4 separate regions of the Homo sapiens genome follow, and all the other regions are linked to region 1. The links come from fine-mapping of genetic effects on gene expression. A gene starts in region 1. Each other region holds a variant in brackets. All regions are shown on one strand. Distances are between the middles of the regions. Region 1 holds the start of TMEM170A (transmembrane protein 170A). Region 2 overlaps CFDP1 (craniofacial development protein 1). Region 3 has its middle 27 kb from the start of BCAR1. Region 4 overlaps TMEM170A (transmembrane protein 170A).

Region 1 (8,106 bases):
TTTTTTTTTTTGAGACAGAGTCTTGCTCTGTCGCCCAGGTTGGAGTGCAATGGTGCGATCTCGGCTCACCGCAACCTCCACCTCCCAGGTTCAAGCAATTCTCCTGCCTCAGCCTCCTGAGTAGCTGGGATTACAGGCACATGCCACCATGCCCGGCTAATTTTTGTATTTTTAGTAAAGACGGGGTTTCACCATGTTGGTCAGGTTGGTCTCAAACTCCTGACCTCGTGATCCACCCGCCGCAGCCTCCCAAAGTGCTGGGATTACAGGCATGAGCCACCACGCCCAGCGGTTTCTTCCACTTCTAATAGACTCTGCTAGTCTGGGAAATGTACCAAAAAGACAGCATGGTTAAAAGGTCAGTATTTCCTGACCCTTTTTATACTTCCTATTTTTATTTTAGATAGGTTTCTTGGTTGATGCAAAACGCCAATTGTAGTGGTAGGGAACTGGCAGGAGGAAGCTTCCTAAACGGAGGTTTCAAGAGAGACTTCTGTTTCTTTTTTTTTTTTTTTTTTTTTTTGAGACGGAGTCTCGCTCTGTCGCCCAGGATTGAGTGCAGTGGCGCAATCTCAGCTCACTGCAAGCTCCACCTCCTGGGTTCACACCATTCTCCTGCCTCAGCCTCCCGAGTAGTTGAGACTACAGGCACCTGCCACCACGCCCGGCTAATTTTTTTGTATTTTCAGTAGAGACGGGGTTTCACCGTGTTAGCCAGGGATGGTCTCGATCTCCTGACCTCGTGATCCGCCCGTCTCTGCCTCCCAAAGTGCTGGGATTACAGGTGTGAGCCACCACGCCCGGCCTTTTTTCTTTTTGAGATGGAGTCTGGCTTTGTTGCCCACGCTGGAGTGCAGTGGCTCCCGGGTTCAAGCAATGCTCTTACCTCAGCCTCCTGAGTAACTGGGACTACAGTCACACACCACCATTCCCAGTTAATTTTTTCTATTTTAGTAGAGATGGGGTTTCACCATGTTGCTCAGGTTGGTCTGGAACTCCTGAGCTCAGACAATTTGCCTGCTTCAGCCTCCCAAAGTGCCAGAATTACAGGTGTGAGCCACCGCGCCCGGCTCAGGAGAAAATTCTAATAAACAGTCTTGCTAATGTTCTTGAATTAAGAGGAAAATATGGGTTGGGTGTGGTGGCTTATGCCTGTAATCCCAGCACTTTGGGAGGTCGAGGTGGGTGGATCACGAAGTCAGGGGTTCGAGACCAGCCTGGCCAAGATGGCAAAACCCTGTCTCTACTAAAAATACAAAAATTAGCAGAGCATGGTGGTGGGCACCTGTAATCCCAGCTACTCAGGAGGCTGAGGCAGGAGAATTGCTTGAACCTGGGAGGCGGAGGTTGCAATGAACTGAGATCGTGCCATTGATCTCCAGCCTGGGTGACTGAGCAAGATTCTGTCTCAAACAAACAAACAAACAAACAAAAATGGAAAATATGTATTTTGCACACAATACTTTTGAGTGTAAAATAGGTTAATGACCGGGTGCAGTGGCTTACATCTGTAATCCCAGAACTTTGGGAGGCCAAGGCGGGAGGATTGCTTGAGCCCACAAGTTTGAGACCAGCCTGGGCAACATAGTGAGACCCTGTCTCTTAAAAAAATTTAAAAACAAAAAAGCTTTAAAAAAAATCATTTTCTCTGCAAATACTGAAGGTGTTGGTACATTGTCATCCAGCCTTCTTCTTCATTTGGCTACTGAACCATTTGATTCTCATTTCTTTGTAGGTGACCTATAGATTCCCTCTGTTTTAGGAATTTCTTTTTTATTTCTTTCTTTTTTTTTGAGATGGAGTTTTGCCCTTGTTGCCCAGGCTGAAGTGCAATGGCAAGATCTCGGCTCACTGCAACCTCTTCCTCCCAGGTTCAAGTGATTCCCCCGCCTCAGCCTCTTGAGTAGCTGGGATTACAGGCACCCGCCACCACGCTCGGCTAATTTTTGTATTTTTAGTAGAGACAGTCTTCACCATGTTGGCCAGGTTGGCCTCCAACTCCTGACCTGGTGATCCACCCACCTTGGCCTCCCAAAGTGTTGGGATTTCAGGCGTGAGCCACTGTGCTTGGTAGAATTTCTTATTTCTATCTTTTTCTTCTTGTTCTATTTATTTTTCTTTTCCTTTCTTTATTATGATTAATTTGGTGGAGCAACACCATTTATTTCCAGGGCCAGCATTGGATATAGCACAATTATGGAAAAAGGCTGTCAGCCACTGTCACAAAAAAATCCTACAGAATCTGAAATGCCAACAAGAAGTCTAGCTGCGCCAGAAAATACCTGTGAATCACAGGTTTTTCCATTTCAACTTATATGACAAAAAGTTTCAGCTTTAATTATTTACTAAATTCCTGAGCCATCTTTAAATTCTTGTGGGGTTTTTTGTTTGTTTATTTGTGTGTTTGTTTTTTGAGACAGGGCCTTCTTCTGTTGCCCAGGCTGGAGTACAATGGAGCAATGATAGCTCACTGCAGCCTTGACCTCTGGGGCTCAAGGGATCCTCCCACCTCAGCCTCTGGAGTTAGCTGGGACTATAGGTGTGTGCCACTACACCCGACTAATTTTTGAATTTTTAGTAGAGACAAGGTTTACCTATGTTGCCCAGGCTGGTCTCAAACTCCTGGGCTCAAGCAATCCTGCAGCCTTGGCCTCCCAAAAGTGTTGGGTTTACAGGCATGAGCCACCTTGCTTGGCAGATCGGTGAATTGGTCACTTTTTAAAAAGATTTTAAAAGGTATGATTTATGTAGCATAAAATTCATTTATTTTAACTGTACAATTCAATGATTTTTAAAGAAGTTTTCAGGCTGGGCACGGTGGCTCACGCCTGTAATCCCAGCACTTTGGGAGGCCAAGGTAGATGGATCACCTGACGTCAGGAGTTTGAGACAAACCTGACCAATATGGTGAAATTCCATCTCTGCTAAAAATACAAAAATTACCTGGGCATGGTGGCACGGAGCTATAATCCCAGCTACTTGGGAGGCTGAGGCAGGAGAATTGCTTGAACCCGGGAGGCGAAGGTTGCAGTGAGCCGAGATTGCGCCACTACACTCCACTCCACTCCAGCCTGGACGACAGAAAAAGACTGCGTCTCAAAAAAAAAAAAAAAAAAAAAAAAAAAAAAAAAAAATTTACCAGTCAGGTGCAGTGGCTCACGCCTGTAATCCCAGCACTTTGGGAGGCCAAGGCAGGTGGATCGCTTGAGGTCAGGAACGAGACCAACATGGATAACATGGCAAAACCCTATCTCTACTCAAAATACAAAAATTAGCTGGGCCTGGTGGCACGCGCCTGGAATCCCAGCTACTGGGGAGGCTGAGGCAGGAGAATCGCTTGAACCAGGGAGGCGGAGGTTGCGGTGAGCTGAGATTTCGCCACTGCACTCCAGCCTGGGCAACAAAGTGAGACTCTGTCTCAAAACAAACCAACCAACCAAACAAAAACATTATTATTCGTCACAAGCCTCTTCATCACCTGGAACCTTGTGGACATTACTTATCCTTGGTAACTTCCCTTCCAGAACACTATTGTTAATGGCTGCTATGGTCTGAACGTGTTCCCCCAAATTCATGTCCTGAAACTTCGTGGGAATGCGATAGTACTGAGAGGAGGGGCCTTTAGGAGACGATTAAGTCAGAAGAGTGGAGCCCCCGTTATGGGATTAGGACCCTTATAAAAGGGATTTGGAGAGTGGGCTCCCTTTGTTACCGTGTGAGGACGCCCGGGCGGTGCTATCAGTGAGGAACGGGCCGTCCTTAGACATGGAACCTGCTGCGACCTTGATCTTGGACCTCCCAGCTTCCAGAACTGTGAGAAAATAAATTTCTGTTCTTAATAAATTGCCCACTCTCAGGTACTTTGTTACAGCAGTGCAAACAAACTGAACATTAGCTTATTCCTTTTTACGATTTCTCTGCCTTCATTTTAACAGGCTTTCTGAAGGGAGGTGAGACAAAAATGTGTGATCCACGAGGACAGGAAATCGAGACCATCCTGGCTAACACGATGAAATCCCGCCTCTACTAAAAATACAAAAAATTAGCCGGGCGTGGTGGCGGGCGCCTGTAGTCCCAGCTACTCGGGAGGCTGAGGCAGGAGAATGGTGTGAACCCGGGAGGCAGAGCTTGCAGTGAGCAGAGATCGCGCGGCCGCACTCCAGCCTGGGTCACAGAGGGAGACTCCGTCTCAAAAAAAAGAAAAAAGTGTGATCTAATTTTATTGCTCTGAACCGAATCTCTGTACATTTTATTTTATTTAAAACTAAGTCGAGCTCTATAGAGGCTACATAGCCTCCCTCCCATTCTGGTCCCACACCAGACTTTGCATGGGCTCTTTCTACTATCAGCTTTAAATAGAGAACGTTCTTGTTCTGTTCATGAAGGTTTCATAAATGCTGGAGTCCAGTCATAACTAGAACTTTACATATCCGTTCCATCACTGTATTTTTCCAGATCCCTGGTAACTCCATAGCGCGGCTCTGTTGGGGCGCATGCAATTCCCTACTTTCTCACAGGGGGCGCTGCAGAGAAGGGCAGAGCAGAGCGCGCGGTCCCAGAGCGCGCCGTCCAGGAGGGGGCGCGTCCGTGGGGCTGTGTCTCTGCGAGCCCTGCGCAACGTTGGGGGCGGGAACAACCCTGGCCCTGCGCCCGAGCGCTGCGGCGCCTTGTGATTGGAGGAGGCAACGGTCACTTGGCAGCGCCGTTGGGATTGGGGGAAGAGGACCCCGGCTGGAGGTGACGCTGAGGCGGCGAGGGTGAGTCGGCGCCGGCCGCTACCGCACTTCGGGCGCTCGTCCCTCATTTCTCTGTGGTGAATGGCGACGGGATGGAGCGCGAGGGGAGCGGCGGCAGCGGCGGGTCGGCCGGGCTCCTGCAGCAGATCCTGAGCCTGAAGGTTGTGCCGCGGGTGGGCAACGGGACCCTGTGCCCCAACTCTACTTCCCTCTGCTCCTTCCCAGGTACGGCCCGCCCCGCGCCTGCGCACTGCGCGCCCCGCCGTCGCCGCTGCCGTGCTGTGGGCGCCCCGAGTCTGGGCGGGGTCCCGGGTGCGCAGCCTGCTGGCGGCGTGGGCGCTGTCCTCCGGGAGGGGGGCCGTGCTGCTCGCCCGGAGCCCCTTTCCCCATCACTTCTTCGGCGGTCCCTGAGGCGGAGCCCCGGAGTCCCGCTGGGCGTGAGATGCAGAGAGCGGCCGCAGGTGGGCCCGGGGCTGGAGGGCGCTCGGCCGCCACCCGAGCGGGTCTTGGCCTTGAGCTTCCGAGCGCCTCAGGTTCAGAGCTGCACCCCACGAGCCCGGGAGGCTGTGGTCCCCGCCCTGCCTGGGTTGCCCCACGGCGCCCGGCCTCCTTCGAGGGGTCTCGGAGCGGCCCGGCCGCGCTGAGGAGTCAGAGCTCGCGCTCCCCTTGCCCCGGGGCTGCAGCCCGGCCCCTCCGCGCAGGCGCTCGTTCGCTGATCGCGGGCGCCTGGGGCTAAATCCTCCCCCTCCGAGACCCGCTCCGCTTTCTAGGAATCTTTCCCAGACCTGGTGCCACCTGTTGCTGGGTCTCCCACTAAGCCTTCGAGATCTTTGGCACAGCTTCCTTTGAACTCTTCCTCCCCGCTGCGGCTTGAGCTGGGCCTGCTAGGAGGGTTGCTCAGAATTCTAATGCCAGGAAGAGCGCTCCGTGCCCTGAAAGCTGGAGGGAGGAGAGAGGACTTCACTTGGGAAGGAGGAGAAAAGCTTTGAGGGGAGGCACAGTTATTTGTGTGGTCCTTGAAAGGCAAGAAGACTAGAGCCCGTGGCCCTGGAAGGGGAGGTGGGGCTCCCAGCAGAGGGGACTGAGGTCTTCATAAACAATGAGGGACCAGAGCAGAGGGAAGGAGGACGAGATTCCAGACTCTAGTTCCAAACAAGGCACCTGTGATTTCTCATCCCCTGGGCAGCGACTGCCAGGCGCCGTTCAGCGGACACCTGGGACTTGCAGTGTTATGTGCCCAGGGATTTTCCCGGACGGGATTGTGAAGTAGCGGGTAAGGTCATCAGGCAGGTTGGGGTCAGATGCAGATGTTCGCTTGTGGTCATTCCTGAAATGAGAATCTGGCAGCTCACGTTATTTCAGAAGGTGCTAGGATCACTTTTGACAGTGATATCAAAAAATTGATGGTATTCTGGTGACCCTGTGTGATACATGAAATGTTCGTGCAATCTGGAGGCACTACTGGGACCAGATTAATCTTTGTTTCCTTAATTTTCCCCTTTCCTGAAAAATGTCAAGCCTGCCAAACAGTTGAGAGAACAGTATAACAAATACCCATGTACCCTTTACTTAGACTCAGTAATATTTTGATTCTTTGGCTTTCTGTTTCTCTTTCTCTCTCTCTGCTCTCTTTCTCTCTCTCTATATATATAACCACATGTATTACATACGTATCACACTTAGATGTAGGTCACATGTCCCATTTCAACTCGAGTCATTCAATAGGAAGTTGCAGAAGTCATAACACTTGCTTGATGCCTGATAATCTTAACATGTATCTTCTAAAAACCATTTTCTATCCATGAAACCATATCACATCCAAGAAACTGAACATCATAGAATAATGTTACCTAATGTGTGGGCCTTGTTTACATTTCCCCAATTGTCCACATAGATTTTTTTCCTTAAAAAAATATATATATTCCATGATCTAAGGTTCACACATTGCATTAAGTTGTCCGTCTCTTTAGTTTCATTTAGCTAAAACAGTTACTTCCTTGTTTGAATTTTTTAAGATGGACATTTTGGAAGAGTCCATGTGAATTGTTGTATAGACTGTTTTACAATCTAGGTTCATTAGATGGTCTTCATGATTAGATTTAGATTAAACATTTTTGGTCAGAACGCTACCTACCTAGGTGACGTCCACTCACCAGTACATCACATCAAGAGACACTGAATGTCAGCCTGGCTCAGTGGCTCACACCTGTAATCCCAGCACTTTGGGAGGCTGAGGCAGGCGTATCACCTGAAGTCAGGAGTTCAAGACCAGCCTGGCCAACATGGCAAAACCTTGTCTCTACTAAAAAGTCAGGCGTAGTGGTGTGTGCCTGTAATCCCAGCTACTGGGGAGGCTGAGGCACGAGAATCTCTTGAACCCAGGAGGCAGAGGTTGCAGTGAGCCAAGATTGCGCCACTGCACTTTAGCCTGGGTGACAGAGCGAGGCTTTGTCTCAACAAAAAAAGAGACATTGAATGTCAATTTGTATCTTCATTGATAATACTAAGTTTGATCATTTGGTGAAGATGGTGTCTATGAAAACTCTACTGTAAGGGTATCTGCATCCTCTCTTTACTACCAAGTTTGATCATTTGGTGAAGATGATGTCTATCAGAACTCTCTACTGTAAGGGTTCCTGCATCCTCTGTTAATTAAACGTCATATGTAGGGTCATAAGTTGGAACTGAATAGTCTGTTGAGTCTCTGGCTTTTAGTTCCCTTTCATTAAGAAAAGATTGAGATAAGTGGATTTGGGATAGGTTTAATACATCACAGTAGGTAATCTGTAGCCATGTGAATTGTTTTACTTTCAGAACTTTTTTCTGAAAATATTAAACTTCAGTATGTTCTTGAGTTTATGATTACTGTTATGGGTATGTAACTTGTGATGTCGATTACCAGAGATCGTTTATTCAGTAAGTATACATTTGGCCAAGTGCCAACTCTGGTCTGGTGTTATGAGCAGGTATGAGGCATAGCCCTTGACCCCAAGTAGATCAGAATTTGGTAGTAAACACATAACCTCCCTGCTGTGTCTCATCTTTGGCAGGAATAATGGGTGTAATAAATACATGAAGTTATATCCTATTTGAGACACCAAAATCTGCTTAACAGGAGTTGCATTCATTGTCCTGAATCTGTTGTATTGATATTTTGGCCCCACAGAAAAGGTTACTTGCAGTGTATGCCAACTCATTATGGCAGAATCATTGTTCTGAAGTATTCTGACATATTTATGTATACCAGGAAGTACTGAATTGATTTTTTCTTTATTACCTGTATTTGCAGTTTAGCCATTTACCTACGGAGGGTTAGGTAGACATCTAAATGACTAAATTGGCCGGTTGCCGTGGCTCACGCCTGTAATCC
Region 2 (8,106 bases), 78 kb after region 1:
GAGATCCAGCAGGAAACAGATGGCATTCTCAAATATGATACTTTCTCACAAAGTGGTGGAAAACCACAGGGATACAAATATTGGTGTGGCCTCCCTGGGGCTGGTAATAATGAGACTCTATTACTACCCCTAGGCCTGAAAGGGCAAGAGTGGGAGCAGTTAATGGCAGGGGAAGAAAGGGTTAGGTGGAATGGACCTCCTGACAGGAGCTGAGACCTTCTGTTAAGTGATGGACTTCCCCCAGAGGGAAGCCAAGGGAATAAATACCCAGATCTGTTTCTTCTCTCTCTGCAGCCTCTTAGGGTACTCCATTGCCCTCTGAGGCTTATTAAAGAATATTCTGACACTTGTTAAAACTGTGAGAACACTTTATCCAAAACTATTGCAGTGGGTCTCAAGACTATCTCTGGGGAGAGAGAGAGTGCTCAACTCCGAATACAGCAAAGACAGCTGGGGATTTTTAGCAGAATCGGGAGGCAGGTGGTCAGTGGATAGAAAATTACTAAGAGGAGACATCAAGGAGAGGGTGATTCTTGCTCAAGGCAGGGTAGTGTGATCAGATATCAAGGGTAGGGGATTCTCTCTACACTGACTTAGCACAGAATTCTTTCCAAAACTGCGCTGTGCAGGCCAGCAAGGGCAGGGGCCAATTTCAAGCCTTAGTTGAGAAGAGGGCTCAGTGGAGTCTGACTAAAGTTTGGTTTAAGGAGAGTCTTCATCAGGCTGTCCTCACAGAGCAGCTCCTAGAGCAGAGAGCCATGTGGGAAAGGGTATAGAGGGAATCTAGGGGCCAACCAGGAGCTACCTTGGGAGCTATACAAGTGAAATATTTTTCAGTAAAGAATGCTGACTCCCTTATAAACAGGGTAAAGTGAAATTTGACCAAAATCAGTTTCTTTGAAAGCCCTGATGGAACATAACACATTACAAGGATATGTCTGCCAAGTGCCTGAGTAAAAGTCCTTAGAGTTGTACGTGAAAATGTACGTGTTTAATTATGATACTGTGAACCTTGGATTTCTGAGTAGATCCAGAATGACTTTCAAGGTTGGTATGCTCATTTTTATGAAATGCATCTCAAAAAGCTTTACAGTTACAATTGTGCTTGGGAAAAGACGGGTCCAAGAGGAATTCAGCTGATCTGGGGTATCTGAGTGGGCACATTTTATCCGTGCAAATATTAGTATCTGTCAGCAGACTCCATTTGCAGAGTATAGAAAGTCTTTTCAAGGGAAGGATCTATAGGAATAATCTAATATTTTAAAAGAAAATTAACACAGTCAAGTTTTTTTCCCACAGACTTTTTTCATTTTGGGAGCTGCTTCAGTTTATAGAAATTGTCTTGCAGAAACACTTTATTTGTTTATTTTCCTCTCTCTAAACAGATTTAAGCAATACAGGAAAACCAGAGCAGGAGAGTAAAACATCCTGTCCCACATCTTTTGATAAGATAAGCACAGATTCAGAAATAAGAACAGATTTAGAGGAGCAAATGTTTGTAACTAAAAATGCATTTCCTCCATGTGTTTAAAATAGCACACTGCTTAGGCTATAAAAAGCCAAAGTTTATGTTTTGGGAATGGAATAAGCCCTACTTTAATTAGAGGCAGGAATCAAACTACAAAAATTACTCTCCTACATTTGGTAGTAAAGTACAAAGCTTAATGTGTCTAAATTCTCATGGTCTTGTCATTCCATGCTCTTGATCCGCCTCTTCCCTCACTCCCCAGTCCTTACTACCAGTACTGTTAGCTACTTGCATCCAGTTTTCTCAGCATTTGCTGGTATCTGGCTGGCCAGGCTTCAACCCCACATTTGCTACCTATTTTCAAGCCAACATTTACTATTTATTCCAACAGCGGGCCACCATTAGTGTCATTAAAATTTGTAATCCTACCCTTACGCATTGACTTGTTTAATTAAGGGCCTACTGTTTAGCTGCCTCTTTATAGATTGAGAATGACCTAAAGCAATATAACTTAAGAGGGAAAGACATCATTTTCCCATGTAGTTTTAGCCTTGTTTTCTTGATCTATGGAGTGGAAAAAAAAAAAAAAGGCCTTAATGTTGAGTATCAAACAACATCATAGGTGATGTCAGTGTAGCAGTGTTTTCCCCAAAGATAGAAGACACAGAATCCCTCACAGTACCATCCTGAAGATAAAAGACTCAGACTAAGGACTGAGAAGACAGTAATGCTGACCATTGTAGTTTGCCAGAATTCAGTGTATGTAGTCAGTAACCAGCAATCTTTGGTTTGTTCAGCAGAGTCTTCCTGTCTGAGCAGTTAATGGTGTGATCTCTCCCAGTCTCCTCATTTGGCCAATATTTAAAACTCTAGAAAGTTGACATAAAAATCTGGATTACTGGCTTTTCTTGAGAAATGAAAATTTCTGCCACTACCTTCCCTCTTCATCTATGGTAACACTGGGGTGGCACAGAGTAGATGGGGTTTGCCCTTTTGTGGTCCCTACTCAGTGGCTTTACTCATTTATATTACCTGCATGGTTCCTGTAGGCAACTGCTTTTCCCACTCTAGGGTAACATGTTTCCCTTTGATGACCATGTTAATTTCATTTTGGAAACAATTTGTTCTCTAGATTAAATACCAAACATACTATCTTCTCAGACTACAGGTTAAATATTCTTTACCCTTTTATAAAGAATAAATAATGTCTATTTATTGGCTGCTTCACCACATTTAAGGCACAATGCTAAATGTTTTACATGTATTATTTCACTTAACCCACATAAACATTCCAAGAGTAGGCACTAACTTTGTGCCCATTTCACAGATCAGGACACTGAGGTTCAGAGAGGCGTCCTTAACTTGTTGAAGTTACATAGTTGATGATTGGTCGAACTCGGATTCCAGCCCAAATCTATTTGAGACCAAAGCCTGGGCTCTCAGCCACTTTGCCATTGCCACTGCTCGCTCTTATTCTCCTGATAGATGTTTTTTTGTTAAAAGAGTCTCTCCTCAATTTCATAACTGATGTGGGACTCTTTGAAAGCTATTTTGTTATTTTTGAAGAAAGTGAGAGGGCTGTTTCCCCATTTTTCCTTTGTAAGCTTTTCCTCATTAATATAACCATTTTCTATACTTTTGTTTCATTCCTGTCTCAAGAAAGTGAAGGTCTAGCACATTTTAAAAAATAAGTTCCAGGTATGTTTGTACATTGATACCTGTCAGCAGCAACAGTGAAGCTGTGGACAAGATGTGATGTGGGGAATAATGGCTATTACTGTTTCCAGAGGGTAATCATTTCCTACTGAGGTATGAATCCTACATTGTGGACAACTTATATGTTGATGGAGAGCCAGGTAGGAGTATCATTGCCCAGCTTGTGTCAAGTGCATTTCTTCTGGTGGCCATTTGTTCCAGGATAGGACTAGCTAGAGATAGCTTTTAATAGGATGTTTCAGGAACTAGTGGTGACAATGGAAATGATTGATTTTGGCAGCTCTGGTGGTACTGGTGTTGTCTTACTTATCAGCTCCAGAATGACATGGTTTGTGTAGAAGCAAGAATACCCTGGCCGGGCGCAGTGGCTCACGCCTGTAATCCCAGCACTTTGGGAGGCCGAGGCGGGTGGATCACGAGGTCAGGAGATCGAGACCATCCTGGCTAACACGGTGAAACCCCCGTCTCCACTAAAAAAACAAAAAATTCTCCGGGCGTGGTGGTGGGCGCCTGTAGTCCCAGGTACTGCGGAGGCTGAGGCACGAGAATGGCGTGAGCCCGGGAGGCGGAGCTTGCAGTGAGCCGAGATTGCGCCACTGCACTCCAGCCTGGGCAACAAGAGCGAGACTCCGTCTCAAAAAAAAAAAAAAAAA[G/AG]AAAGAAAAGAATACCCTGTACCTGACTTTCACCTTCATGTTCTTCAGTGGATGCTAATACCGTGCTTCATTTGTTTTTAACTTATTCTTAATTTGTTTTAAAATAAGCCTTTATAGGTATTGCAGGTACAGAGTAAATAGATTAGAAATTGAATAAGGAAAATAGTTTTTAAAAGATTTTCCCTTGAATATTTGGAGTATTTTCAATCTATTAAAGGCAATTTCATTCACATTGTTGATTCAAAGCTATTATTCCAGGCTAAGCTAGTAACTGAGATAAGTATGAATGGAGAGTCTAGTGATATCCTTTTGGGAGGGAAGAGGATATCTGACAATTCGGGTCATGAAATAAAGTCCTTGCCAATCTGAGCATCTAAATGAGACTCTAAACAGAGAGAAGGTTTCTCTTTTTTTTTGAGACGGAGTCTCACTCTGTTGCCCAGGCTGGAGTGCAGTGTCGGGATCTCGGCTCACTGCAGCCTTCGCCTCCCAGGTTCAAGTGATGCTCCTGCCTCAGCCTCCCAAGTAGCTGGAATTACAGGAGCCTGCCACCACGCCCGGCTAATTTTTGTATTTTTAGTAGAGACAGGGTTTCACCATGTTGACCAGGCTGGTCTCAAACTCCTGACCTCAAGCAATCCACCTGCCTGGGCCTCCCAAAGTGCTGGGATTACAGGCGTGAGCCACTGTGCCCGGCCAAAAAGTTTTCAAAGCAAAAACTTTTTTCATTTGTGGTCACCAGGATGATGTAACCTCTGTCAGTTCGGATTGAATACCTACAACAAATACTCTGAACCTAGGAATTATCTATAGTGATTTTCAAGGTTGCCTGGAGTTAAATAAATTCTAGTGTTCTTAGAAAATTCTATGAAGAGATGAACTTTATTTACACATAGCAGCCTTTTTCCTTTGCTCTTAGCCTCAAATTATAGTGCCAACAAGTTTCAAACATGTATGATTTTAAGAGCCAGATGTCTATCAGGATCACAAACTTTTTTTTTTTAATTTTACTTTAAGTTCCGGGATACATGTGCAGAACATGCAGGTTTGTTACATAGGAATCCATGTGCCATGGTGGTTTGCTAGGATCACAGACTTTTAAAACTTTATTTTGCCGTATTCCTATACCCTTGGTTGTGCCAAATTGTCCTGGTGTGAAAAATGAGTCAAGTTAAATGCTTTAGGTGCTTCTTGGATGTGTAGGGAAGAATGGAATAGGTATGTGAAGTTATGGTAGTCATACAGTTTACTTAGTATGATAATATAAATTGATTTGGGAGCAAGGAAACGAAGACCTTCATTTAAGAAGATGATTATGATACTCTAGGAATGAAGTGAATATATTTTGGTTAACTTTAAAACAGTAATTTATTATTGCTTCATAGGTCTTTAACTTCTTTTACTGTACACTAGAGGGCAGAATTCCACCTGAAAAGATAGCTCGTCTTTGGCAAGATCCCAGAAAGCATTAAGCAGCATTCTTAAGATTGGGTAAAAGAGTCTTGTACATTTTTCTTTGCCTTATTAGATTCGTCTCTTGGTATGATATTTCTATGTACTATGCAGTTTCTACTTTTTTCTTTTATTAGAATTTTTTTTTTCAACTCTACTATTGTGCTTAGAAAGAGAAATGATTTTTCTTCTTTCATTTTTTTCCTTGGGATACAAAAACTTTGTTGTTGCTGTTGTTGTTGTTGTTTTAAATTACAAATAAGAAAGTAAAAATGACCTGTAGTCCCACCACTTAAATTTTTTTCGGAGAGAAGGCAGTGAAAGTTCCTTTCTGCCTTTCCAATTGTTAATTGTCATCCCTAGAAGCTGATAGCTGTTAACTGATGATCAGTTTTGTGCAGATCCTTCCCTGTGCTATGATAATATATTGTATTCATATATATTAATATTAGTCACAAGATTCTCCATTCATACTTACGTCAGTTACTACCTTGGCCTGGAATAATATCTTTGAATCAAGAATGTGAATGAAATTGCCTTTAATAGATTCAAAATATTCCAAGTATTCATGGGAAAATCTTTTAAAAATTATTTTCCTTATTCAATTTCTAATCTATTTACTCTGTACCTGCAATACCTATCAAGGTTTATTTAAAAATAAATTAAGAATAAGTTAAAATCAATGATCAGGGAAAACAATATATACATATATATTGTATACATATATATGTATTGCATTCGTAGATACTTAAAACAAAAGTGGACTTACCCTGTCTGTACTGGTCTGCAATATATATATATATATATATATATATATATATATATATATATATATAGTTTTAGTTTCTTCTTGCAACTTGTATTTTTACTTAACAGTCTATCTTGGGCATCTCTCCAGGTTCAATATAAACATCTGTATTTTTTTTATGCCTGCCTGGTATTCCATTTTGTGACTTCCATAATTTGAGTGCACCTTCTCTTATTGATGAACATTTACAGTTTTCCAAATTTTACAGTTATTAATAATCTGTGATAATCCTTACACATATGTTTTTTATGTTCTCATACTGTTATTTCTGAAGGACAGAATTTTAGAAGTGGGATTGCTGGGTCATTGGGTATGTGCATCTTAAATTCTAATAGCTGCTGCTAAATAGGCAGAAGCAATTTGAAGTCATGCCAGTATTATGTGAGAAGACCAGTTTCCATACATTTACCAATATGTATTTATCTGCATTTCTCCACGATCATTGTAGTAACTGTATCTTTATAACCTGCTGGTTTGTGTGGTGGTTTAAAATTTTTCCTCTTTTCTTTCTCTTTTTTTTGAGATGGAGTCTCACTCTGTCGCCCAGGCTAGAGTGCAGTGGTGCTATCTCGCTCGGCTCACTGCAACCTCCACCTCCTGGGTTCAAGGAATTCTCCTGCCTTAGCCTCCCAAGTAGCTGGGATTACAGGCATGTGCCACCATGCCTGGCTAATTTTTGTATTTTTAGTAGAGATGGGGTTTCGCCTTGTTGGCCAGGCTGCTCTCCTGACCTCAGGTGATCTGCCCACCTCAGCCTCACAAAGTGCTAGGATTACAGATGTGAGCCACTGCGCCCAGCCAAAATTTTTCCTCTTTTGAAAACTGTTACCAAAACAGACTTTTTATTAAACTAATATTATTTTGTGTATTTGTCAAATGTTACGGAATGAATAAATTAAGGTTTGCATATTACCTGTAGGTAGTTTCCATATTGTATCAAATTATCAAAGTTAATTAATCTTCAGTCATTTAAGAGATCAGGTAAAAAAATCTAGATTTTATAAACACTGAGATAAATTGTGAGCCAAATTTGGGGCTGTATCTTTTTTTTTTTTTTTTTTTTAAGACGGAGTCTCGCTCTTTTGCCAGGCTAGAGTGCAGTGGCACGATCTCGGCTTACTGCAACCTCCACCTCCCAGGTCCAAGCAATTCTCCTGCCTCAGCTTCCCGAGTAGCTGGGACTAAAGGCGCCCACCACCATGCCCGGCTAATTTTTGTATTTTTAGTAGAGGCAGGGTTTCACCATATTGGCAAGGATGGTCTCGATCACTTGACCTCATGATCCGCCCACCTCGGCCTCCCAAAGTGCTGGGATTACAGGTGAGAGCCACAGCGCCTCGCTGGGGCTGTATCTTATTGATCCTTTGCAAATGCTGTGTGCTGCTTCACTCTTAGGTTCTTTGTGTTGGAAAGTACTATCTCAAAATGTTTTAACATCAGGGAAGAATGTCATTCATCCTAATCATAGCACTAAGCGATTTTTATGTTCTGATTAAAGTTCTTAAAAAGGCAACTTGCTGCTATTTCCTGAAGGGTTCTGACTGTACAGAAAGATTCATATTAGATAAATACTTTAATTTGGATTGAGGAATTTTTCTTTTGGGAGAGGCTGAGCAGCTGTCTTCTAATTATTTTGGTCAAGGATTGAAAATCAGGCTGGTCTGAAGTCCAGCACTTAACTATACTCAGTTACTTGAATTTTGGATTCTGCCACAACCCTGTTACCCAAGCAAACCTATGATAAATTTAAGCTGAAATAATTTAAAGCTAGGCCAATATTTTCCCATCATTGAGGATATGGAAGATTCTAATCAAACATTCATCTTTAGACCTAGTAATTCTGGATGCTTAAGACCATAAAACATAACCTTTTGATTATTAGCATTTCCTTGAATTTGAAATGTAGTACAATTTCAGTAGTTGCTAATTTGAGAATGTGTAGGAAAAACTCATGCTTTGCATTGGCTTCTGCTTTAAACTGAGATCTTTTAGTCCTAGCTGCTTGTGAG
Region 3 (8,106 bases), 190 kb after region 1:
TGAACAGGCCATATGTTAGAAGGATGCTGCACAGGCCTCGACTTGTTAGATGCAAACTAAATGGTTCCTGACCTGGATAAATGAGCTTGAAATGTAAAGACACCAAAACGAATTACACTCAATGTCTGGATTTTCTGGCAGAAGTTATGGGGCTGCCTGTCTTCAAACTGCCCGGTGTCCTGAGTTGTCCCTGGGCCCTTAGGCCCAGGCTGTGCCTTGAACCTCCTGTGAGTGCCTTCTCTCAGTGGGAGGTGTGGCCAGATCTCCTGAGGATGTGCAGGAGTCTTACTGGGCAGAGCCCTCCTCTCCCAGGTCCGCTGAGCAGCCCCATTCATCTCTGAGAATGATTTCATGCCTTCTTCCACTGAACACATTTGCATGATAACCTGGGCCTGCCAGAGTTCGAGGCACCCCAACTGACAAATGGAACACATTTTTTAAGCTCATTGGGTGCCGAGGGGCACTGTCTGCAGCAGGCTGAACCCTCTCTGTATCAGACACCCTGTCAGGTTGTCTCTAGCAGGCTCACAATTTTGTTACCACTCTGCCATTGAGTTCCATTATTGGATCCTTGAATTTGAGGTTCAGGGTCCTGAGTCATGAGAAGGAAAAGCTGCCCATCTCCCAGTCACCATTCGCCCCACATCCCAGCCCTCCTGTACCAACAGGGTCCGATGTGTGCCCTTGAGCCGCCTATAGACAACTGAGCTAGAGACAACCAGAATAAGCATTATCATTATAAAGGCTTATTTTGTCTTTGTGATGCAGTAGTATTTTCCAAAAAAAATTGCAAATATCCCATGTGTTATAATAAAAAAATATGACTCACCCCTGTAATCCCAGCACTTTGGGAGCCTGAGGCAGGAGGATCATTCTAGCCCAGGAGTTCAAGACCAGCCTGGGCAACATACCAAGATCCCATCTCTAAAAAATCAAAAAATTGGCCGGGCGTAGTGTCGCGTGCCTGTGGTTCCAGCTACTCGGGCAGCTGAGGCAGGGGAATCGGCTGGCAGGTCAAGGCTGGAGTGAGCTGGGATCATGCCATTGCACTCCAGCCTGGGTGTGCAAAAGCAAGATCCTGTCTCAGTTAATTAACTATTAATTAATTATTTGGCTTTGTGTTTCTGGCACAGAGCTCCTAAAACCCTTGGAATTTACTGTCTTGTGTGCTAATGAGGGACCATGGCTTATCATAGGGGAGCCCTCGATAGCTTCAGGATGGGGACTGGGTGCCAGAAAACCAACCACATGATTTCAGCCCTCCCCTCCCAGCCTCCAGGGTGGGGAGAGGGGCCAGAGATGGAGCTCAATCACCACAGACTAGTGATTTAATCTATCATACCTATGTAATGAAACCTCACAAAAACCCCGAACCCCCTTGCACCCCCAAGTCCATGGGGACAGAGGCTACTGCACTCAGGACCCTTCCAGACCTCACCTATATACTTCATCTGGCTGTTCATTCTCATCCTGTATAATAAACTGCAATGGTGAGTACGGCACTTTCCTGAGTCTGTGAGTTATTCTAGTAAATTATCAAACTTGATAGGAGTGTGGGCACAGTGGCCCATGTCTGTAATCCCAGCACTTTGGGAGGCCAACGCAGGAGGATCAGCTTGAGTCCAGGCGTTCAAGACCAGTCTGGGCAATATAGTGAGACCCTGTCTCTACAAAAAAACTTAAAAATTAGCTAAGCATGGTAGCTGTCTGGTCCCAGCTACTTAGGAGGCTGAGGTGGGAGGATTGCTTGAGCCCAGGAGGTGGAGGTTGCAGTGAGCCAAGATTGTACCACTGCACTCTAGCCTGGGCAATAGAGCAAGACCCTGTCTCAAACAAAACAAAAAACCCAATAGGAAGAAGGGTTCATGGGAACCTCCAAATTTATAGTCAGCTGGGCAGAAGTATGAGTAGCCTGGACACTCCATTTGTAGCTGGTGTCAGAAGTGTGGGCAGTCTTGTGGGACCAAGTCCTTAACCTGTGGGGTGTATGCTAATTCTGGGTAGTGTCAGAATTGAATTGTCGGACATCCAGTTGGTGATGGAGAATTGGTTGGTGGTGGGAAAAAAACCTCACAGCCCACTTTTGTCTAACTCTTCCTTTAAGGCAGACAACTGACACAAGCGAATTGAGAGGCAAGGCAATTAGTGAAAGACACCCACATCAGATGCCCAGATCCTAATCCCGGCGCTGCTGACCAGCTGGTGACCTTGGGCACATGGCTTGGCCCTCTGCCTCCCCTGGCCTGTCTATAAAATGAGGGGGTTGATTAAATTATCCCTGGGGCTTAACACTAGGAATCTCTACTTCTAACAAGCAGCCAGGTGATTCTTCGGCACTCCAAAGCTTGAGAACCAGTGCTTATGACCTCCTTAGCAGTAAAATAATTAAAAGGCCTCCAGCTATATATTTAGGAAAATTACATCTTTCTTTATCCTTGCCACTTCAAATAACTGAAATTCCTAAACTGCTGCACCAGCAAAGCCACAATGAATAAGTCAGCCTAGGTTCCATCCCCGATGTCTGCCGAGACTCACCTGCAGGAACTTCCTCCTACTTTCAAAGAGCTTGGCTGAAGTCTCCTAAAAGTTGTGGGGGTCGGCGCCCGGGCACAGTGGTTCACGCCTGTAATCCCAGCATTTTGGGAGACCAAAGTGGGCTGAGCACTTGAGTCTAGGAGTTTGAGACCAGCCTGAGCAACATAGTGAGACCCTGTCTCTACAAAAAAATACAAAAATTAGGTCGGGTGCAGTGGCTCATGCCTGTAATTCCAGCACTTTGGGAGACCAGTGGATCATCTGAGGTCAGGAGTTCAAGACCAGCCTGGCCAGTATGGTGAAACTCCATCTCTACTAAAAATACAAAAATTAGCCAGGCGTGGTGGTGTGTGCTTGTAGTCCCAGCTGCTCAGAAGGCTGAGGCAGAAGGATGGCTTGAGCCCGGGAGGCAGAAGTTGTAGTGAGCCAAGAGCACACCACTGCACTCCAGCCTGGGTGACAGGAGTGAAATCCTGTCTAAAGAAAAAAAAAAAATTAGCCAGGCATGGTGGCACACACCTGTAGTCCTAGCTGCTTGGGAGGCTGAGGTGGGAAGATCACTTAAGCTAGGAGGTGGAGGTTGCAGCGAGCCAATATTGCCCCACTGCACTCCAACCTGGGCAACACAGCGAGACTCTGTCTCAAATGTTTTTATAAAAAAAAAAAGTTGTTGGTAACTTGGAGAAGCAGCTGAAGTCAGGCCTGAGAAGCAAGTGAGAAATTCAGACAACAAAATCCACCGAAGACCCAACAAATACAGCTGAAGAGACAACACTTTCCTGCCAGGTGGGCAACAGATGGCAGGACCCATGTGCACACACACACTCACACCAGCGAAGCCGAGTTTGCAGTGTGTCAGCTAGGTTGCCCTGCCGCTTGGAGACCCAGCCCCCACGCACCACACTCCTGTCAAAACAAGCCCTGAGCTAGGCGGATTCTCGCGGCTCCCGCTCCTGCCAGCTCAGCCAGGGCAGCCCCGCTGGGCTCTTCCTGCCAACCTGAGTTCTACTGGCTCTCCTCTTCCCTCCTTCTCTCTCCTCC[T/C]GATATTCCTCTGCTGTTCTGATGGAGAAGAAATCTATTCATTGAGAATTTGACAGCAGAAAAATGAAAGAAAATTTAAATCTCCTATAACCTTCCTAACAGAGAAAACTACTGTATACACTTTGGAATATTATTTCAGCCATTTTTTATGTGTTTAATGTGTTTTTCATACCTTTTTTTGTTTTTGTTTTTGTTTTTTGAGACAGGGTCTGTCACCTGGGCTGCAGTGCAGTGCTGCAATCATAGCTCACTGCATCCTCGACCTTGGCTCAAGCGACTCTCCTGCCTCACCTTCCTGAGTAGCTGGGACTACAGGTGTGCACCACCACGCCCGGCTAGTTTTTGTATTTTTTTTTTGTAGAAACGGGATTTTGCCATGTTGCCCAGGCTTGTCTTGAACTTCTGGTCTCAAGCGATCTGCCTGCCTTGGCCTCCCAAAGTGCTAGGATTACAGGCATGAGCCACCACGCCCAGCCACCCACACCTTTTCTTAACATACTTGGGATTTAGTGTACCTGTGCAATTCAATACAGAAGTCACTATCACCTGCAGCTCTTTAAATGTTAAATTTGTTAAAATGTAAAATTCAGTTCTTCAGTTGTGCTAGTCCAAGACCTCATGTGTTCATTAGTGGCCTATGGTTATTGTCTATGGAATAAGGGACCAGGCAGGTGCAGAACATTTCCATCATCACAGTCCTATCAGCCTGCCCTGGTGTGTGCAGTTTTAACCAAATGCTACGCGCTGAGCATTTCCCTATTAAATATTCTCAACATTCTTTGAGTACATTATTATTATTATTATTTTGAGGGAGGGTCTTGCTCTGTCGCCCAGGCTGGAGTGCAGTGGCATGATCTTGGCTCACCGCAACCTCTGCCTCCCAGGTTCAAGCGATTCTCCCACCTCAGCCTCCTGAGTAGCTGGGATTACAGGCATTCACCACCACGCCTGGCTAATTTTTGTATTTTTAGTAGAGACGGAGTTTCGCCATGTTGGCCAGGCTGGTCTTGAACTCCTGACCTTAAGTGATCCACCCTCCCAAAGTGCTAGAATTACAGGTGTGAGCCACTGCACCTGGCCGAGCACACGGTTTTTAAGGGCTGCAGAGCATATGCCATTTGTGGTTGTGCCATGGTTTATTTTACCGATCTTCCACCATTGGCCATTCAGGTCACCCACTGTTGTGATTATGAATGATGCTGTGGTGCACTGCTTTAGCCCTTTGATAATTTTCCACATTCCTGATTCTCTTTTTTTTGAGATGAAGTCTTGCTCTGTCGCCCAGGCTGGAGTGCAGTGGCGCGATCTCTGCTCACTGCAAGCTCCGCCTCCCGGGTTCACGCCATTCTCCTGCCTCAGCCTCCCGACTAGCTGGGACTACAGGTGCCCGCCACCACGCCCAGCTAATTTTTTGTATTTTTAGTGGAGACGGGTTTTCACCATGTTAGCCAGGATGGTCTCGATCTCCTGACCTCGTGATCCGCCCGCCTTGGCCTCCCAAAGTGCTGGGATTACAGGCGTGAGCCACCCCGCCCGGCCATCCACATCCCTGATTCTTTCTAGATTATTTCTATGAGTGAGTTTGTTGTGTTGGGCAGGGCACGTATTTTCAAGGCCACAAAATGGAATGCCCAGCTACCTCCCAGAAAGTTCTCTCACTTGGACAGGGCAGGTGTGCCCCTCTCTGCTTATGTGAACCCTCTGAGAGGAGAGGACTCATCGAGGAAGCCCTGCCTGTCTGAGCAGAGAGCCTGGTGCTTTGGGAGAGACCTACCTGAACTAGGAGGAGAATGGCCATCCAAGGAACAGACTGGAACTAGATTGTCCCTGAATTCCAGAACCTTCTGCCATATCAGCCCAGGGCTCTGTCTCTGAAGGCAGCATCTGGACAGGGGAGAGATATGCTGCCCCAGGGACCCAGATTCACTCAAGCCCAGCCTTGTGGTACATTCATCTGTGAGTTGCTGTGAATGTGCTTTCTGAATCCCTCTATCCTCTCACCTCTCAGGGTAAGTGAGTTCTGTTCCATTAAAAAGGGGGGTTTTCCAGGCTGGGTGGCTCACACCTGTAATCCCAACACTTTGGGAGGCTGAGGCAGGAGGATCACAAGGTCAAGAGTTCGAGACCAGCCTGACCAACATGGTGAAACCCCGTCTCTACTAAAAATACAAAAATTCGCCAGGCGTGGTGGCTTGGTGTGCCTGTAATCCCAGCTACTCGAGAGGCTGAAGCAGGAGAATCACTTAAACCAGAGAGGCGGAGGTTGTGGTGAGCCAAGATCGAGCCACTGCACTCCAGCCTGGGCGACAGAGCAAAACTCCGTCTCAAAAAAAAGAAGTGGGGTTTGGCCAGGCACGGTGTGGCTCATGCCTGTAATACCAGCACTCTGAGATGCTGAGGCGGGTGGATCACTTGAGCCCTGGAGTTCAAGACTAGCCTGAGCAACAGGACGAAACCCCGTCTCTACCAAAAACAAAAATTAGCCAGGTGTGGTGACACACACCTGTAATCCCAGCTACTCGGGAGGCTGAGGCACGAGAATCGCTTGAACCTGGGAGGCGAAGGTTGCAGTGACCCGAGATCGTACCACTGCACTCCAGCCTGGGCAACAGAGCGAGACTCTGGTGTGGTGGCTCACGCCTGTAATCCCAGCACTTTGGGAGGCTGAGGTGGGCGGATCACCTGAGGTCAGGAGTTTGAGACCAGCCTGACCAATGTGGAGAAACCCTGTCTCTACTAAAAATACAAAATTAGCCGAGCATGGTGGTGCATGCCTGTAATCCCAGCTACTCAGGAGGCTGAGGCAGGAGAATCGCTTGAACCCGGGAGGCGGAGGTTGTGGTGAGCCAAGATCACACCATTGCACTCCAGCCTGGGCAACAAGAGCGAAACTCAGTCCCCACACCCCGCCCCCCAAGAAAAAAAAAAAAGAAAGAAAGATTCTCCAAGAGAGGTGTTTTAACTTCCCAAAAAAAAGAGAACCTGCTATTAGAATAAATTGAAGTTGCCACCTATGTCTCTGAATTGTATTATAGGCTTTTTGTTTGTTTGAAACAGGGTCTCACTTTGTCACCCAGGCTGGAGTGCAGTGGTGCAATCTTAGCTCACTGTAGCCTCGACCTGTCAGGCTCAAGAGATCCTCCTGCCTCCGCCCCCAAAGTAGCTGGGAATATAGGCACGCACCATGACACCCAGCTAATTTTATCCATTTATTTATTTTATTTTTGAGATGGAGTTTCGCTCTTGTTGCCCAGGCTGGAGTGCAATAGTGCAATCTTGGCTCACCGCGACCTCTGCTTCCCGGGTTCAAGCAATTCTCCTGCATCAACCTACCGAGTAGCTGGGATTACAAGCATTCACCACCACGCCCTGCTAATTTTGTATTTTTTTAGTAGAGACAGGGTTTCTCCATGTTGGTCAGGCTGATCTCAAACTCCCGACCTCAGGTGATCTGCCCGCCTCGGCCTCCCAAAGTGCTAGGATTACAGGCGTGAGCCACCGCGCCCAGCCCTGACACCCAGCTAATTTTTTTGGTATTTTTTTGTAGAGACGGGATTTTATCATGTTGCACAGGCTGGTCTCTAACTCCTGACCTCAAGTGATCCACCTGCTTTGTATTCTAGTTTTACATTTTGAAGAATTTAGGACCTTTTTGTTACTTATGAATACAAAAGACATGTTATTAAATGGATTGCTACTTTTAAAAAATTTCGTACTTTTGACCCAGTAATTCAATGTCCAGGAATTTATTATCAGAAAATACAGTAATCAGATTGCAGAGAAAGATCCGCTTACAAGTATACTCATCTCAGCATTATTTGTACATTATTTGGTCCAAAATGGAAAGAACCGCAACACCCACATGCAGAGAATGGTTAAATCAGGTGTGGGAATCCTGTACAATGAATGATTGATTATTTTACCGCTTTTGAGGCCAGGTGCATTGGCTCAGGCCTATAATCCTAGCACTTTGGGAGGCTAAGGCGGGAGGATTGCTTGAGGCCAGGAACTCGAGGCTGCAGTGAACTACAACTACACCACTGCATTCCAGCCTGAGTGAAAGAGTGAAACCCTGTCTCTAAAAGTAAAAAATAAAAATGAAAGTTATTCATTGAGCCCCTACTATTTGTCAAGATGATTTCAGCCCTCACGGAGTTTATAGTTCACAGGAGCAGATAGACAGCTATTGAATACACAAGTAAATATATAATATCAGGAAGTGGTAAATACCACAAATAAAAATTCCTCCCATTTGTTGGTTTCCATGTACCCAGCCCTGTGCTAAATGTTTTACCTAGATTATCTCATTTAATCTTCACAGCAACCTATGACAAGATAATATTTCCATTATGACCAAAAGTAAATCAGGGAAGGCATCCTGAGAAGGCAACCTTGAGCAGACCTTGAAGGAAGGAAGGAAGGAAGGGGTGCATCAGAGGAGACTCTGGGGGCCCGTATCAAGGGCAGAAGAGCAGTGCAAAGGCCCTGGGGCAGGAAGGCACCAACTTGAAGCCAGCACGGTTCAACCTA
Region 4 (8,106 bases), 21 kb after region 1:
ACAATCAATGACTTGGGAGACAAAGGAATCCCTGAGTATCTCTCCTCTCATGCCCTGTGAATGAATAACAACTTTATGGCTTAGAGTCCTCCTGTCTTCCCTTTTCACCCCTCTAGTCCCTCCTCCGTCCATTTCTTGAAGGGAACTATGAGTGTGATAGAAGGTGGAGTGGGGATTCCCTGTGGCCTGAAACATTTCTTGCTTAGTCTAACTCAAAAGATCCTTTTTCATTTGTTACCAAAAATGTATTAGGTCCCTGTTGAAGGCTAGGCATGGGGTAACTGGTAGGGGAATACAGATATTTTTGAGTTCATAATCTGGTCATGTGGGAATTGCTATCTTTGTGATTTTGATTATTTCTTCCAGATTATTTTATTCAATAAATCTAGGAGACTCTGGGTTTTAAGGAGTCAGCATCTAAAAGTGATCTTGCAAGCCATGCAATGAATACTCAAAGTGTAGAGTAGTCCACAGAAAGAATAGGGAAAACCTAACATTTCTGTAAGATTTAAATTTCAGTATAAAATCTGGAACATTCTACTCGCAGTAGTATTTTAAATGTTGTATTTTCGTGAGTTTGTTAACCTTCGTTTTTTGTTTTTGTTTAACATTCTTGCATTTTAAATCAGGTGCAGCTATTGCTGGAGTTTACCGAGCAGCAGGGAAGGAAATGATACCATTTGAAGCCCTCACACTGGGCACTGGACAGACATTTTGCGTCTTGGTGGTCTCCTTTTTACGGATTTTAGCTACTCTATAGCATACATCCTTATGCTGAGATGTTGAACTTAAACTTTATGGAATCCTCCAAAAGAATACATTATGGAGTGTAGTGTTTTCTTAGTTCTTCAAAGGGAAGCAACTTGGATGAACAGGAACATGAAGGACAACACATCTCAGCCTTTTCTTCATTTTGAAGCTCCTAGAATTGAAGACTTATGTGGACTCCTATTGTTCTCAACCAAAACAAGTCTTTTGGCTTTCTTTTTTGTAGATATTTGATTTAAGCAGTTTTCATGTGTACCTTTACCCAAGCCAAGTCAACAGTGTCTCTGGGGTGGCATCCTTTGCACTGAAATTTACAGTATTCTGTGAGATGTCGCATATTTTGAAGAAACCGTGGAAGATACTGGTTTATTTCAAATGAGCAGAGTATGTTGTATTAAAATCTTATCTAATCTTGATTAAAATTTGGCAAACTCTTTTCTTTGCTACATCTTAGTGACAATAAATGCCAAATAGGTTTTGGTTGAGTATAGTTTTGAAAACAAATTTGGTGAAATAAAGCAGGAAAAAAAATTTAAGTATAACTCAAGTAGTGGCTTTGGTTCCACTGTTTATAAATAAAAAGTAGATAACAATGAATAATGTGACATTTTCTGGACAACTGTCTTGACTTCTGATTAAGATATTTTAAGAGATGTGAATTTGTTATTTTGTATGTTTTATCAAAATAAGCTAGCTAATTTAGACTTTTTAGATTTTCTGTACCACCTTTCCCTATCACTTTTAATTCTCTTAATTTTATTTCATTTAATTGGAAACATACATACCCTATTAAATGGCTTGAGTTGGAAATTTTAAGCCAGATTTGTTTGGACATTGAGGCACACATAAGATACTTTAGGCATTCTGTCATAGTTTTTCTTAGTGACTTTGGTATACTAATGACCCTTGAGAAACTATAGAAGTGCATCTGAAACTAGAGTTAGTGGTTATTGATTTTTTAGCTTAATGTGTTTACCTAGTGGTAACTCTTCAGCCCACTTTTACAGTATTGGGTATCAACTCCCAGAAAGTGCCTAAAGTTTAATGTTCAGATATGTACCCACTCTCCCCTTTACATTTTTATTCAAAAGAATTTATATCTTTAAAGAGATTTAAATATCAAGAGTTTTTTTAAAACTTAATTTTAGCTATTTAAATTTTTATTCTACTGCCTAACTTTCTTTTTCATTAAAAGGCCTGAAAACTGTGACTCTTTGAGAGGGAAAGAATCGCAGAAATTAAGTATTTAATGTGATCCTTTCCACCTAAACTGTTTTGTATGGAATACAATCAGTGTGGTGGTAGTGGTGGTGGTTATCTGCAAAATAGTTTCTGGTGATTAAATCTGACTTTTTTTTTTTTTTTTCTTTTAAATGAGACGGAGCCTCACTGTGTTGCCCAGGCTGGAGTGCAGTGGTGCAATCTCAGCTCACTCCAACCTCTGCCACCCGGGTTCAAGCGATTCTCCTGCCTCAGTTTCCTGAGTAGCTGGGATTACAGGCACCTGCCACCGTGCCCGGCTAATTTTTGTATTTTTAGTAGAGATAGGTTTCACCATCTTGCCCAGGCTGGTCTTGAACTCCTGACCTTGTGATCCACCCGCCTCGGCCTCCCAAAGTGCTGGGATTACAGGCGTGAGCCACCGCGCCTGGCCATAAATCTGACATCTTTAAAGGAAAGTTTTCATTGTGAGATTAAGGCTTAACAGCCCATGAGGTCATATACACATGAACGTATCTATTCCATTTAAAGCAATACACACTCTGGCTTCTGATTAAAAATAGCCAGGAGGAGAGTCTCTGAATCTACTGTGATTCTGGAGTCTGCCCAATTTGGAAAAAAAAAAAAAAGAAAAAAGTCAGGAGGACCAATTTGCCAGGGAAACTCATAGAAAAGAATTACAAAGAGATCACAAAAACTGGACATATTCTTTTGACTAATTAGACCACTTATGGCTGGGCGCAGTGGCTCACACCTATAATCCCAGCACTTTGGGAGGTCGATGTGGGAGGATTGCTTGAGCCCAAGAGTTCAAGACTGGCCTGGGCAACATAGTGAGACCTTGTCTCTACTACAAAATAAAAAAAAATTAGCTGGGCGTGGCCTCAGCTACCCAAGAGGCTAAAGTGGGAGGATCACTTGTGCCTGGGAGGTTCAGGCTGCTGTGAGCCGAGACCACGCCACTGAACTCCAGCTTAGGCCACAGGGCAAGACCCTGTCTTAAAATAATATTACTAATTTTGGTAATTAACTTATCAAAACTATAGTGACATATACACGGGCAGAAACTTATAAGTAGAGTTGTAATGCAGCCAAATATTCTTACAAATTCCCTAACAAGAAGCTCAAATCTTTCTCACAGGCAAATTGTAAAAATTCTAGTTTTTTGTTTAAAGAGCTGTGATTTTCAAAAGTATCCCTTCAGTTTAAGAAATCTGGGGAATTGGTAACTTTTCTTATGGGAAATGATTGCCATCATCTCTACTGAAGGATGCCTCTTACTGAAAAATGTCTTTTGAAGGAGTTCTTGCCTAAAGCATTCTTTGGATGTAATTTCATACACTAAACATATAGACCAGTAGTTAGTGGGCCCCTCCTCTTAAACAGTAACTTTTGAAGTACTGATACATGATTAAAATGTTAGATATTTTTCACTGGAGCTAAGACTTAAAATTAGGGCATTTTGAAAGGTGTATTTGTTTCTGTTTCTTGTTTGATATATTTTGGTTATCTACTCTTTTAAAAAACTAAACGTATAAAAGGTATCTTCAAATTACTGAGTGTTTCATCCATCCCAGTAGGTGAAGTATTCTCCAGTGAATAAATCTATATATATATATAGATTTTAAATAGCTTGAGCGGTGTAGCTTGAAATGTTTTCAGGGAAAGACTATTTGAATCATAAGGAATAGCTTTGATTTTCTTTTTTATGTCTCAAATATAGAATTATTTGGGGGTGGTCACTCAGATGGAAGAATATTGGCAATTGTGTTGAACATTTTACCTTATATAGTTTTGAGAATTTTTGCCAAAAACTGATTTCTTAGAAATATCCTCCCCCAGCTGTGCTTTGGTTTTTTGGTTTTTTTGTTTTGAGACGGAGTCTTGCTCTGTCGCCCAGGCTGGAGTGCAGTGGCATGATCTCGGCTCACTGCAAGCTCTGCCTCCCGGGTTCACGCCATTCTCCTGCCTCAGCCTCCCGAGTAGCTGGGACTACGGACGTCCACCACCATGCCCAGCTAATTTTTTGTATTTTTAGTAGAGACGGGGTTTCACCGTGTTAGCCAGGATGGTCTCAATCTCCTGACCCGCCTCCACCTCCCAAAGTGCTGGGATTACAGGCATGAGCCACCACACCCGGCCTCTGCTTTGTTTTTTAAAAAAAAAGAAATGCAAGAGAGGGAGGGAGGCAGCCTCCTGACCATAAAAGCTGATTTCTTGATTTTTTTTTCTTTTTTTTTTGAAATGGAGTCTTGCTCTGTCTCCAAGGCTGGAGTGCAGTGGCATGGTCTCAGCTCACTGCAGCCTCCGTTTCCTGGGTTCAAGTGATTGTCCTGCCTTGGCCGCTGAGTAGCTAGGATTACTGGCACCCGCCACAAGGCCCAGCTAATTTTTGTATTTTTAGTAGAGACAGGGTTTGATTATGTTGGACAGGCTGGTCTCAAACTCCTGACTTCAAGTGATCCACCCGCCTCGGCCTCCCAACGTGATGGGACTATAGACATGAGCCATC[A/G]TGCTTGGCCTTCTTGATTCTTGAATACGGGGTTTTGAGGTGAAAGCATTTCATGAAAACTTAAGTTCATACACAAGAGCATCATGAATATTCTAAAAGAGGTATCTGTGCTTTTTTTGTGACCACAAAATATTACTTCTTATGAAATGTTTACACTAGGTGAGGAAAAGTTCATTAATTACCTTTAAACCGTTCCTTATTTTTTTTAAGATTTTAAATTGTATTTTGGCTTTTGCCTCCAGTATCCTTTCTGGTTGCTCTGGTTTGAATTAAGTTCCTATTATGCTGCAGCACATATCAACCTTCCCTAAGTAACCATTTCCTGGAATGTGAAGCATCGGTGCCATTAGCAGACCATATGCAGAAATGTCGTGTACTTGCATTTCTTTTTTGTGCACTCTATAAGGCTGGTTGTGACTCAGATCAGCTTAACTTTTTATATTATGTTATTTCACTAACTGCTACAGTCAAAATGATCAAATCTTTGTACAATAGAAAATTATTTAAATTTTATTTTTCTACTGACATTTCTAATTCTAGTGTAAATGTTTATCAATAAAAAATTACTTTCAATTCTGAGTTGGAATTATATTTCTTTTTGGTGGCTAATGAGTTTAATCTTTTGTAATAAAATTGACTTCAGTTTTCATTTTTTAAATAACTTAATATCTAGCATGTGTAACTTTTTTTATGTTCTACTTCTTACTAATTTATGATAAAATTCTTGTTCAAAGTTGTGATTAAACCGTACTTAACATGTGAACTTGAAATTCTTATTAACTCTACTTGCTGGGCCATATATTCCCATCAAGAAACTTTTGTTTGATTCTGTGCAGGAATAGGTGAGTATTGATACAGTGTGTGAAAATGTATTATTTTAATAGTAAGTCCACATGAAGAGAAGCTTCGTCGTGTTTGGTTAATTTAATACCCTTGGTGACATCATAAATCTCACTGTTCTGCCATTTTTAACAAATGGGACTAAGTTGGGTAGTTTACCTCATGGTCACAAGATTGCTGCAGTTCCAGCCATTGCAGACACATACAGAGAATGTCTGGCAGGAGATTGCCCATTCATTCCTTCTAATTTTCTAAAGTTGAGGTTTAACATGCAGTAAAGTGTACAAATCTTAAAATGTATAGCTTAATGAATTTTACATATATATATATATATATATATATATACTTAATGTGACTAATAGATCAAGAGACAGAATGTTTCTAGCACCCCGGAAAGATACGTACACAGTTCAGACAGAAGACCCCAAGACTGTATATGTATCTGGGAGTAAAGGTGCTGAGATCGGCAGGGAGGACACCCTAAATTATTACCGAGAAAACAGAACAGTGAACCAGGAATCTTTAGGGAGTTGGAGGGATTTGTGCTGTGGCCAAGTGGAGAGCCCTGTCCGAAGGAGTCAGCTATTGCTTGGCTCCAGCCTGTTTCTGCTTTATTCGATGATTAACCCAATCTTGCCAGATACTTATTTTCAAGAGAAGCTGGAAATCTAGGTTACTGTTTGAAATCTCTCCATTTTTAAGTGTTAGCAACTAATTTAAACTTGCGTAAAACACTTTTATTATTTATTTATTTATTTAGAGACACAGTCTCGCTCTGTTGCTCAGGCTGGAGTATAGTGGCGCGATCTTGGCTCACTGCAATCTTCACCTCCCAAGTTCAAGTGATTCTCCTGCCTCAGCCTCCCAAGTAGCTGGGATTACAGATGTGCGCCCCCAAACCTGGCTAATTTTTGTATTTTTAGTAGAGACGAGGTTTCACGGTGTTGGCCAGGATGGTCTCGAACTCCTGACCTCAAATGGTCCGCCCACCTTGGCTTCCCAAAGTGCTGGAATTACAGCCGCGAGCCACCTGTAATTGTGCGCCTTGCCGTAAAACACTTTTAAGTCATTACAATACATGATTTTAAGCTGGATTTGGCCTGCTCACCACCAATTTTTTTTCCATCTCAACTATTAGAAAGTAATTCCCACTCTGATTACCCTTAAAGCGGTCAGGAACTCTAGTTGTAAATCTGAACAATCACATGGAGTGCTAGGAGAAATGGGTGCTGGGGAGTGTCTGCCAGAGAACGCAGTGGCTCCTGTTCCCCAGACTCACCCCCAGTGATAGGGCAAAAGGGTACATCCTGATTTGTGGCTGTAGGACACCATTTATGCTGTCCAAGGTAAATGACGCCAAGAATGGTCAACTTCCAAATACTGGGTTCAAATTTTACATCTATTTTTCTATTACTCTCCCATAAGAAAAGTGTGCTTAGGCCGGGTGCAGTGGCTCATGCCTGTAATCCCAGCACTTCGGGAGCCCGAGGCGGGCAGATCACCTGAGGTCAGGAGTTCCAGATCAGCCTGACCAACATGGAGAAACCCTGTCTATACTAAAAATACAAAATTAGCCACACGTGGTGGTGTATGCCTGTAATCCCAGCTACTTGGGAGGCTGAGGCAGGAGAATCGCTTGAACCCAGGAAGCAGAGGTTGCAGTGAGCCGAGATCACGCTATTGCGCTCCAGCCTGGGCAACAAGAGCGAAACTCCATCTCAAAAAAAAAAAAAAAATGTGCTTAAATGGATCATAAACCTAAACGCAAGAACTACAACTCTTAGAAAAAAATAAGCGTAAATTTTATGATCTTGGCTTAGGTAAAGCTTTCTTAGATACAATTCCAAAAGCACAAGGGAAAATAAACAAAAAATAGATAAATTGGACTTCATCAAAATTAAAAACGACTTTGAAGGACACCTTCAAGAAAGTATGAATAGCCAGACACGGTGGCTCATGCCTGTAATCCCAGCAATTTGGGAGGCCCGGGTGGGAGGACTGGTTTAGGTCATGAGTTTGAGATCAGCCTGGGTAACACAGCAAGACCCTATCTTTACAAAATATGTGTATTTTTAAAAGTTAGCTGGGTGTGGTTGTGTGCACCTGAAGTTCTAGTTACTCAGGAGGCTGAGGTGGGAGGATTGCTTGAACCCAGGAGTTGGAGGCTACAGTGGGGCTATGCACCACTGCACTCCAGCCTGGGCAATAGAGCAGGATGCTGTCTTTCAAAAAAAGTGGAAACCTCACAAAATATGAGGAAATATGTTCAAGTCACAAAGGACTGGACCAGCCTGGTGGTGGACCAACTGGACCAACATGGTGAAACCCCGTCTTTACAAAAGGTATAAAAGTTAGCTAGGCGTGGCCAGGCGCGGTGGCTCACACCTGTAATCCCAGCACTTTGGGAGGCTGAGGCGGGCGGATCACAAGGTCAGGAGATCGAGACTAGCCTGGCCAACATGGTGAAACCCTGTCTCTACTAATAATACAAACATTAGCCGGGTGTGGTGGTGCATACCTGTAATCCCAGCTACTCAGGAGGCTGAGGCAGGAGAATCGCTTGAACCTGGGAGGTGGAGGTTGTGGTGAGCCAAGATCATGCCATTGCACTCCAGCCTGGGCAACAACAGCAAGACTCAGTCTCAAAAAAAAAATAATAATAATGATAATAATAATTAGCTAGGCATGATGGTGCGCCCCTGTAGTCCCAGCTACTCAGGAGGCTGAGGTGGGACGATTGCCTGAGACCAGGGAGGTTGAGGCTG

Evidence for each region.
Region 2: its variant is fine-mapped to the expression of TMEM170A in whole blood (INTERVAL, PIP 0.94).
Region 3: its variant is fine-mapped to the expression of TMEM170A in whole blood (GTEx, PIP 0.96).
Region 4: its variant is fine-mapped to the expression of TMEM170A in whole blood (INTERVAL, PIP above 0.99).

What each region holds. Positions count from the first base shown.
Region 1 is chr16:75,461,323-75,469,428 of GRCh38, reverse strand. It overlaps TMEM170A (transmembrane protein 170A), which reads left to right and starts at 4,740. Exons shown (of 3, transcript NM_145254.3): 1 at 4,740-4,961. The coding sequence starts at 4,829. RefSeq lists enhancers at 4,570-5,070, 6,260-6,309 and a silencer at 4,764-5,393.
Region 2 is chr16:75,382,872-75,390,977 of GRCh38, reverse strand. All of the region lies in intron 5 of CFDP1 (craniofacial development protein 1), which reads left to right. Among named protein-coding and RNA genes, the nearest start is that of CFDP1, 47 kb to the left of the region's middle. The variant G/AG (reference allele first, on the strand shown) is at 3,838.
Region 3 is chr16:75,274,831-75,282,936 of GRCh38, reverse strand. No RefSeq gene overlaps it. Among named protein-coding and RNA genes, the nearest start is that of BCAR1, 27 kb to the right of the region's middle. The variant T/C (reference allele first, on the strand shown) is at 3,577.
Region 4 is chr16:75,440,212-75,448,317 of GRCh38, reverse strand. TMEM170A (transmembrane protein 170A) reads left to right here. Exons shown (of 3, transcript NM_145254.3): 3 at 630-5,264. The coding sequence ends at 760. Among named protein-coding and RNA genes, the nearest start is that of CFDP1, 11 kb to the right of the region's middle. The variant A/G (reference allele first, on the strand shown) is at 4,502.